Regions from separate parts of the Homo sapiens genome. Here region 2 is reported to be linked to region 1. Evidence: microRNA targets listed by miRTarBase, many of them from high-throughput screens and not tested one by one. Region 1 holds a microRNA gene; the other region holds the end of a gene's coding sequence.
What was found. The annotated mature microRNA hsa-miR-208a-5p reads GAGCUUUUGGCCCGGGUUAUAC and lies in region 1 at 2,303-2,324, shown strand. An mRNA with a match to its seed (bases 2 to 7 or 8) in the 3' UTR can be bound and repressed. Matches are read on the target gene's strand: a 7mer-m8 pairs with bases 2 to 8, a 7mer-A1 pairs with bases 2 to 7 and ends in A, and an 8mer does both.

Region 1 (4,375 bases):
ATATGGTTGATTGGACTTTGTGGTTAACTTGGAGAATTGCAAAGGTATCTGATTGTTTCGAGGCATGTTGTCACAAATATTTGTAAAATACAAGCACTCATTTTCCCGTCTTATGAATAGCGCAACAGAGCCTAGTGAATCTGGGGACTCTGAACTTCTTGATCTCACAGGATACCAGGATCCCCCTTCAACCACAGGTTCTCAGGATTTGGGGCTGCAGATGCTCACACTGGGTCTGAGATGCCCTTGGGAGCTTCAGCCAAATTCCTATTGATGGCCTATGCATTATAGGATGTTTAGTAGCATCCCTGGCCCCTACCCTCTAGATGCCAGTAGCAAGCCCCACCAAGACATGACAATCAGACATTGCCAACTGTTCCCTGGGGCACAAAATTGCCCCTAGTTGAGAACCACTGCTTGAGAGGAACCTAAGTTCCTGGTAGCTTTTCAGAGCCGGGGGGATTCCAGTGGAGGGGTCCAGGCGGTGGGTCTGAGCCCTTTGTGTCTGACCCAGGCACGCATCGAGGAGCTGGAGGAGGAGCTGGAGGCCGAGCGCACCGCCAGGGCTAAGGTGGAGAAGCTGCGCTCAGACCTGTCTCGGGAGCTGGAGGAGATCAGCGAGCGGCTGGAAGAGGCCGGCGGGGCCACGTCCGTGCAGATCGAGATGAACAAGAAGCGCGAGGCCGAGTTCCAGAAGATGCGGCGGGACCTGGAGGAGGCCACGCTGCAGCACGAGGCCACTGCCGCGGCCCTGCGCAAGAAGCACGCCGACAGCGTGGCCGAGCTGGGCGAGCAGATCGACAACCTGCAGCGGGTGAAGCAGAAGCTGGAGAAGGAGAAGAGCGAGTTCAAGCTGGAGCTGGATGACGTCACCTCCAACATGGAGCAGATCATCAAGGCCAAGGCAGGCTCTGCTCGGCCTCCCCTCGCCCTCTCCCCTGCACAGCGGAGCCTCCCCCATGCCTTCTCTCTCTGTCTGCCATCTCCCTTGTCATTCTCATTCTCTTCATCACCCTTTGGTCTCTCTTCCTGTCTCCCCTGCCCCTCTCTGGCTCTCCTCACCCTCTCTATCTCTTCATGTTCCTCCTTTCTTTAATTCAAGTCTCTCTTCAGACTGCGCCCTCCCACACCTTCTGTGTCCCCCTCCTGCCCTCTGGCATTCCCCATCTCTGACCCTCTCTTCCTTCCTCTGGTCGACTCAGCCCCTCCCACACTCACCCTTCCTGTCTTGCTTCCTGAAGGCAAACCTGGAGAAAGTGTCTCGGACGCTGGAGGACCAGGCCAATGAGTACCGCGTGAAGCTAGAAGAGGCCCAACGCTCCCTCAATGATTTCACCACCCAGCGAGCCAAGCTGCAGACCGAGAATGGTGGGTGCCCCTAACCAACCCCCTGCCTAGGGCAGGACATGACTTGTGAAATGGCCCACAAGCCCCTCATTTCACCTCCAGGAGAGTTGGCCCGGCAGCTAGAGGAAAAGGAGGCGCTAATCTCGCAGCTGACCCGGGGGAAGCTCTCTTATACCCAGCAAATGGAGGACCTCAAAAGGCAGCTGGAGGAGGAGGGCAAGGTGAGGCCCAGTGGGGAGGGTGGGCAGGCTTGATGGCAGCCCTGGGGCAATTCATCTCAGTGCCAGAAATGGAGCCTGGAGCTGGAAAGAGTCCTCTGCAAGGGAAAGACCCTCCAGTCTAGGTTCTGCCCTGCAGCTAAGCGTCATTTAATGCCTCTTTTCTTATTCGTAAGGGGATGGGGTGAGCAGACTGGGAAACTCCTCAAACAGTGAGGTGCCACATCAGCCCACATGGTGAATAAGGCTGGGCTTGGTTGAAGTACTACATAAGAAGAGAATCTAGAGAATGGGGCACAGGGAGTCCCTCCCACCTCCTGGTGCCCCCCCCCCTCCCCAGGCGAAGAACGCCCTGGCCCATGCACTGCAGTCGGCCCGGCATGACTGCGACCTGCTGCGGGAGCAGTACGAGGAGGAGACAGAGGCCAAGGCCGAGCTGCAGCGCGTCCTGTCCAAGGCCAACTCGGAGGTGGCCCAGTGGAGGACCAAGTATGAGACGGACGCCATTCAGCGGACTGAGGAGCTCGAAGAGGCCAAGTGAGCTCCAGATACCCCCTTAACCTGACTCTCAGAGAGGAAGGGGCGAGAGGACCTGGGGTGGGGACAGGCAAAGTGGTCATGAGACGGAAGTGGAAGAGACAGGAGGAACTCGGAGGGCAACAGAAGTGCTTGGAAGAAAGCCTGAACTCTTTGCTCTGTGAACTCTGGCTGGCCCTGACCCACTTCCTGTGACGGGCGAGCTTTTGGCCCGGGTTATACCTGATGCTCACGTATAAGACGAGCAAAAAGCTTGTTGGTCAGAGGAGCTACCGTCGATCAGCCTGTGTGGGGGGTGAGGGCAGGGGGCACTGACACCCAGATGCCACTGCAGGTAGGGAGGACGCCTGGGCAGCCCGTGCTGGCGGACTCTGTTCCAGGCATGAGCAGGCTCAGCTCCTGCTAGGCTGGACTTACGGTGTCTCAAGGAGATATAGGGAGGGGGTGGAAGGAGGTCCACCCAAGGCTCCAGTGTTGCCCAGTAGAGTCACACACACACCCTCCACCCTCACCTGGGCAGAAAGAAGCTGGCCCAGCGGCTGCAGGATGCCGAGGAGGCCGTGGAGGCTGTTAATGCCAAGTGCTCCTCACTGGAGAAGACCAAGCACCGGCTACAGAATGAGATAGAGGACTTGATGGTGGACGTAGAGCGCTCCAATGCTGCTGCTGCAGCCCTGGACAAGAAGCAGAGAAACTTTGACAAGGTGGACCATGGGCGGGGGCCGCAGCCAGCATGCAGGGCAAGGGGGCATGAGGGGTTCAGTGAGAGGCCAAAGGCAACCTCCTTGGAGGTGGAGGAGGAGGGCTAAGCCCAGGCTCGGGACCAGGGACAGATCTTGGACATGCGGCTGAGGCTGGGGGCTGGGGCACTGGGAAGCAGGAGGGCTGGGGAGCTAAGGCTGGGGGGCTGAAGAGTGAGCCTTGTCCCCGGGCAGATCCTGGCCGAGTGGAAGCAGAAGTATGAGGAGTCGCAGTCTGAGCTGGAGTCCTCACAGAAGGAGGCTCGCTCCCTCAGCACAGAGCTCTTCAAGCTCAAGAACGCCTACGAGGAGTCCCTGGAGCACCTAGAGACCTTCAAGCGGGAGAACAAGAACCTTCAGGGTGTGCTGGGGGTCCAAGAGGCCAGAGATGAGTTGGTGGGAGGGAGGGCCATGCAGGGGCAGGGGGAACATAGGCTTTGAGCTTTCTGGCCCTCTGGTCCCCAGAGGAAATCTCGGACCTTACTGAGCAGCTAGGAGAAGGAGGAAAGAATGTGCATGAGCTGGAGAAGGTCCGCAAACAGCTGGAGGTGGAGAAGCTGGAGCTGCAGTCAGCCCTGGAGGAGGCAGAGGTGAGGGCCGAGAACTCCCTGCACCCCATCCCTGTTCTGCCGCTGTCTCCCACTTCTCCCTCACCTGGGGGTGACCCTGACCCCAGGACAAAATCTATTCATTCCATATTCTTTGTTCAACATTATCTACCCACTATTCACTACCCATGACTGCCTCCAAAGCCAAGGTCTGCACAAAGGAAAATGTCAGTCTGATTAGAGGCCAAAGGTTTTGTTTCCCACCAGGTTTTAAAAGTTGGAATCTGGCCATAATAATAACCACTTAGACAGTGGGTAGGAGTGTGGGGTTCCAGAGTCAAACAGGCCTGAGTTGGAACACAGCTTGAGGACTTTCACTGCAGCGTTGGGCAAAATCTTTAATCTCTCTCTGCCTCAGTTTTCTCATCTGTAAAATGGAATTAACTGTACATACCTCATATGATTTTACACATGATTATTATAAAGATTAAATGAGGTAACACATTTAAGCACTTAATATATATTAGCTATTGTTACTCTTCATTTCTAAGCACCTGGGAATAGCCCTGAGTTTTCTGGGCTTCTAACTTTTCTCAGGAAAGGGTGAGGGACCTGGAAAACAAGATAAAATTTTGTATTTGTGGTTATAAAAATTCCTCCATTTTCTATAATACTTTAGACAGGTCAGGAATTTATGCAGTGTTAGTGCTGGAGGGTCTGGCAATTGTGAGGTCCAAACCCTTTTCTTGACAGGGGAAGCCCAGAGAGTCCAGCACTTTCTCCCCAATAGCACCGTGGTGGGCATGGGGTGCAGATCCCACCTCCCCATCTCTTCTCAGCTCTTCTTCTCTGGGCGATAGTCCTGGCTGACACCGTGTATCTTCTCATCCTCCCTCTCAACCCTGCCCTGTGCCCTGTCTGCCCGCCCTCGCCCCACCCCTTCCCAGGCCTCCCTGGAGCACGAGGAGGGCAAGATCCTCCGGGC
Region 2 (4,375 bases), not on the chromosome of region 1:
CCACCCAACAACCTCTGTGGCCCGGATGGATGTTATCAGGAAGGAGGGTGTCCAGAGCGGGGAATTGTGTTATAGGGAAGGTGGAGCATTTGAGAGAAGGGGCATCCGAGGCCACCAGACTCGGAGGTAAGCTTGCCATGGATTCACATGGGGGCCAGTCGGGCAGCCCCATCCATCAGCTGTCCATCAGCTCATAGCTGTGTCTCCGCCACAGGTTCCCATTAAGGATGTCGAGGCGGGGAATGGTGAGGAAGAGTCGGGCATGGGTGCTGGAGAAGAAGGAGCGGCACAGGCGCCAGGGCAGGTGAGTGCCAGCCTGGGAGCTGGCAGGGTGGGTGGGGGGTGGATGACTATTGCCATGAAGAGCTTCCCTTTATTTGAAGGGTCCAGGGCTGCTTTGATCTTTTTTTTCTGAGACTGTCCTATTCCTTTTCTGCACAGGGAAGTCAGACCTGACACCCAGTACACCGGCCGCAAGCGCAAGCCCCGCTTCTAAGTCACCACGCGGTTCTGGAAAGGCACTTGCCTCTGCACTTTTCTATATTGTTCAGCTGACAAAGTAGTATTTTAGAAAAGTTCTAAAGTTATAAAAATGTTTTCTGCAGTAAAAAAAAAGTTCTCTGGGCCGGGCGTGGTGGCTCACACCTGTAATCCCAGCACCTTGGGAGGCTGAGGTGGGAGGATCATTTGAGGCCAGGAGTTTGAGACCTGCCTGGGCAACATAATGAAACTTCCTTTCCAGGGAGGAAAAAAAAAAAAAAAAAAAGCTCTGAGAGCATCTTATTTTGTTTAAAGGCAAGAAATAAAATTTCCTTTTGTGGAGCTCTGGCATCTCCCAGCTCTGTGATTCTCACCAAACTCCAGTTCCTCCTGGTGGGCTACTGCTCGACTCCCCAGGCAGGAATCAGATTTAAAACACTTAGATGAAAGCATTCTTTCCATTTGCAAGGAACACAGAGTCCTTTAATTTAGGGCTTATATATAACTGTATCATAATCACACCAAGCAAAGTTGGGAAGAGGGCCCACATGAAATGTGTTCGTGGTGCCTGCTGGCCAGTCCGTTTTCCCTTCCTGTGAAGGCCTTGCCAGTCCAGCGGCCCCAGCTTGAACTGTGGCACTGAGCTGCACGGTCAGCTGCCTACCAGCCCAGTGCTTGGATGTCTTGGGCTGATCTCTTGTCCCGTCACTAGTGGTTGGAAAGGGAAGGTCCTGCTCTGGGGTAGTGTGGGACTGTCCAGCTGGCTGTGATAGGAGAGGAGGTGTAATGGTTGCTTGAGCCTTTTGGTCCATGTGGGAAGAGGGGCAAGATCCTGGGCATTGCAGTACAGAGCTGGATTAGGTGTTCAGCAGCTTAAGACATTAGGGAATGGGTGCCGGGGCCCGAGGGGCTGGGTGTCTGGGAGTGGGGTGAGGCTTGGGGCCTGAGGATCTAAGCCCTGCAGTGGGGTTTCCTGCAGGTGTCAGATTCCAGGCCTTGAGAGTGGCCTCTGGGCCTGTTCTCAGGGAATAAGGCCTGGATGTTTTCCACTGCACGGCCAGAGACAGGTCTGAGGAAGTTGAAGGCCCAGGGTGGGGTTGAGGCTGAGTTGGGATCCTCGCCTCTGAGCCCTTCCTCTTAGTGCCACATTCATTCATCCTCAGGTTCTAAGACTGTGACACTGCAGATGGCAAGAAGTCTAGAGCAGCCAGGCCAGGCACAACCTGTGGTCCCAGCTCTGTGGGAGGCTGAGGTGGGAGGCCAGCTTGGGCAATAGTGAGAACCCTCCTAAGGTTTTCCCCCAGGAGACCTGGGGAAGAAATCTACAACAGAGGCCTGGTACAGATACAAATGTTTATTCTACATAAAAATTTCACAAAATGGGCAGCTGGTTGTACCAAGACCTTTGGTGAAGGGGTTGGGGGGAATCGCTGTTCAAGAAGGCAACACGGACAGTGGTCACAGTCACTGGGCAGGAGTAAAGCCGAGGGAGGGTGGGGCACACGGACACGGCCCCATCCCCTGCTGCATGCACTCGCATGCATCTCCCTGCCTGTCCACAAGGGAGAGGGTCCTGGGGCGGGGGCACATTTCCCATGAGAAGCCCCAAGGTGGTGAGGAGGAGGAGGTAGCCCTCCCCGGCTGGCTGCCGAATACTGCATCTGGGACACGTGACACCCACGTGGCACATCGATGGGAGGATGGCAAGGGCAGGATGAGACTGCAGGCCTGAAATGACATCTGACTTCCCAGAGCGCAAGACAACAGGAGCCACCATCCCAAACATGCAACGCTGGCTTGAGGGACTGACTGCAGCCTGCTTTGCCTCCCTAGCTGCTGGGGTGGCTGGAAATAGGGCACCAGCCAGCCCCTTCCAGAGGGACACCTGGGGTCAGACCTAGCCCAAGGGGTTGCTCCTGGGGCCGGAGGAATGTGGGAAGGGAAGCTGAGGCCCAGGACCCGATGGACTTTGCCCCTAGGCAGGGGAGGGAGCCTGGAGCCATGGCAGCCTGAGCCTCCCTGGCAGTGATCAGCGACTGAGACTCAGAGCTGGGCTGTCCCTCAGGGCCACCTCTCCCCTAACCTGAAAAGCAGCACCATGTGGCCAGCTGGTCCCCACCCCTCAGGGCTCTGCTTGTGGGGACAGCTGGAGAGGACAGGGCAGGTCAGCTGGAGGCGAGGTTAGGGTCCCCAGGGAAGAGCAGAACCTGGGCCCACCGAGTTACTGAAGGCAAGGAAGGGTGGCCTGTGTCACCCTGGCGGCCCTGCCTGGGTCTGCTCCTCGCTGTGCACACTGCATCACGCCCCGCTGGCTGCCTCCCTCTGCCTCTTCCCGTACAGACGCACACTCACAGAGATCATGCACACGACACGGGGCGGGGACGGAGGGCCCATGGCAGAGAAGGGAGCATGGGGGCCGGGAGGGAGGGTGCTCTGAGCCAGAGGCGGGGGTTGGGAGGGCAGCCCAGCCAGGTGGCAGCAGCCAGGGCCTCCTTGGAGTGGCCCACCTGGAGTGGAGTGGCAGTTTGGGTGGCTTCTAGGCGAAGATGCCCCCAACAGTGGAGGCGATGACGATGCCCAGGATCACACAGCAGATGATGATCATGATTTTCTTCTGCATGGGAAGCGGGCAGGAGAGGCCTCAGACAGTGTTGGCGGCAGGTGGGGTGGGACTATGGCAAAGGCTGAGGACTGGACAGTCGGGGGGGATCCAAGCAGGGGAAGGTGACGGCCTGGGAGGGGGCTGTCATGGGGAGCTCCTGAGAGAAGGGAGAGAGGTGGGATGGGGAGGGATGTGGGATGGTTGGGGGTCCCTAATGGGTGCTGGGGCATGGCCTTGGGCAGGGCTGGGCTACTGACCCGGCGCGCCTTGCTCTGGTACTTGACGGCCTTCTTGGTGTCAGACACGGCCCTCTCCACATAGTCTACCGCGTGTTCCACATTGTACTCGATCCTGTCAATCATCTCTCCCTGCGGGGCCGGGGGCACCCGAGCTCCAGAGGGCCCCCTCCTCAGGGTTGGGTTGGGGCTCGGGGCAGGACTTCAGGAAAGCACCCTGAGGCTAGAGACAAAAAGGGGGCGTGAGGAGGTTAGGGTACAGCTTCTCACCTGGGCCAGGTACCCTGGGTGGGGTGTAGAGGGCCAGGCAGGCTCCCCAAGGCAGCTCCCACATTTCCCCGCAGAGCAGCAATCCTGGGGGTGGAGCTGGCCATGCAGTCTCAGCTGAGGGTTGGGGACCATGCAGAGAACACTGTCAGAGATGTGGCAGTGCCAGGCAGAGGAAGGTGGGAGCAGGAGTGGGTATGCTGGAGTCTGGTCCTGCCCTGGCCATAGCTCCTGAGGTGGCCACAGGTGAGCCTGCCCACACCCCCATCCTCAGGCATGACAGCTCCATCCAGCTCTGTCTGCTGTCTGGGGTCTTCAGTCTTTAAGAACTTGAAGTCAGGTTCGAGACCATCCTGGCCAACATGGTGAAACCCCATCTCTACTAAAAATACAAAAATTAGCTGGGCGTGGTGGCGAGCACCTGTAGTCTCAGCTACTCAGGAGGCTGAGGCAGGAGAACTGGTTGAACCTGGGAGGCAGAGGTTGCAGTGAACTGAAATCCTGCCACTGCACTCCAGCCTGATGACAGAGTGAGACTCCGTCTCAAAAAAAGAAAAAGAAAAAAAAAAAAATAGAACCCCCTGCCCAGCCCACAGCCCTTTTGAGCCCTGTGATCTGGTCCCATGCTGCCCCCAGAGGCCAATCTGACCATGACACTGCCCCACAAGACTCCTAGGGCGTGTCTCCCTCTCCAAGTCCATCGGTTGCCTTCACTGGCGTCCACGTCACCATGGTCTGTTTCTCACCAGATGGCGGCAGCGGCAGCCTCCTGACGGCCTCCGTACTTCCT

Region 2: the mRNA of BUD23 is a reported target of hsa-miR-208a-5p. Seed matches in the 3' UTR shown: 7mer-m8 at 763-769.

Annotation. Positions count from the first base shown.
Region 1 is chr14:23,386,586-23,390,960 of GRCh38, reverse strand. It overlaps MIR208A (microRNA 208a), which reads left to right and starts at 2,295; the gene lies at 2,295-2,365. It overlaps MYH6 (myosin heavy chain 6), which reads left to right. Exons shown (of 39, transcript NM_002471.4): 26 at 515-904; 27 at 1,242-1,368; 28 at 1,450-1,568; 29 at 1,906-2,102; 30 at 2,623-2,806; 31 at 3,038-3,203; 32 at 3,308-3,432; 33 at 4,338-4,375. RefSeq lists enhancers at 810-1,413, 1,414-2,017, 4,067-4,375.
Region 2 is chr7:73,697,391-73,701,765 of GRCh38, forward strand. It overlaps BUD23 (BUD23 rRNA methyltransferase and ribosome maturation factor), which reads left to right. Exons shown (of 12, transcript NM_017528.5): 11 at 215-304; 12 at 442-822. The coding sequence ends at 496. It overlaps STX1A (syntaxin 1A), which reads right to left. Exons shown (of 10, transcript NM_004603.4): 9 at 3,340-3,450; 10 at 1,820-3,094. The coding sequence ends at 3,017. Among named protein-coding and RNA genes, the nearest start is that of MIR4284, 12 kb to the right of the region's middle. RefSeq lists an enhancer at 1,985-2,486.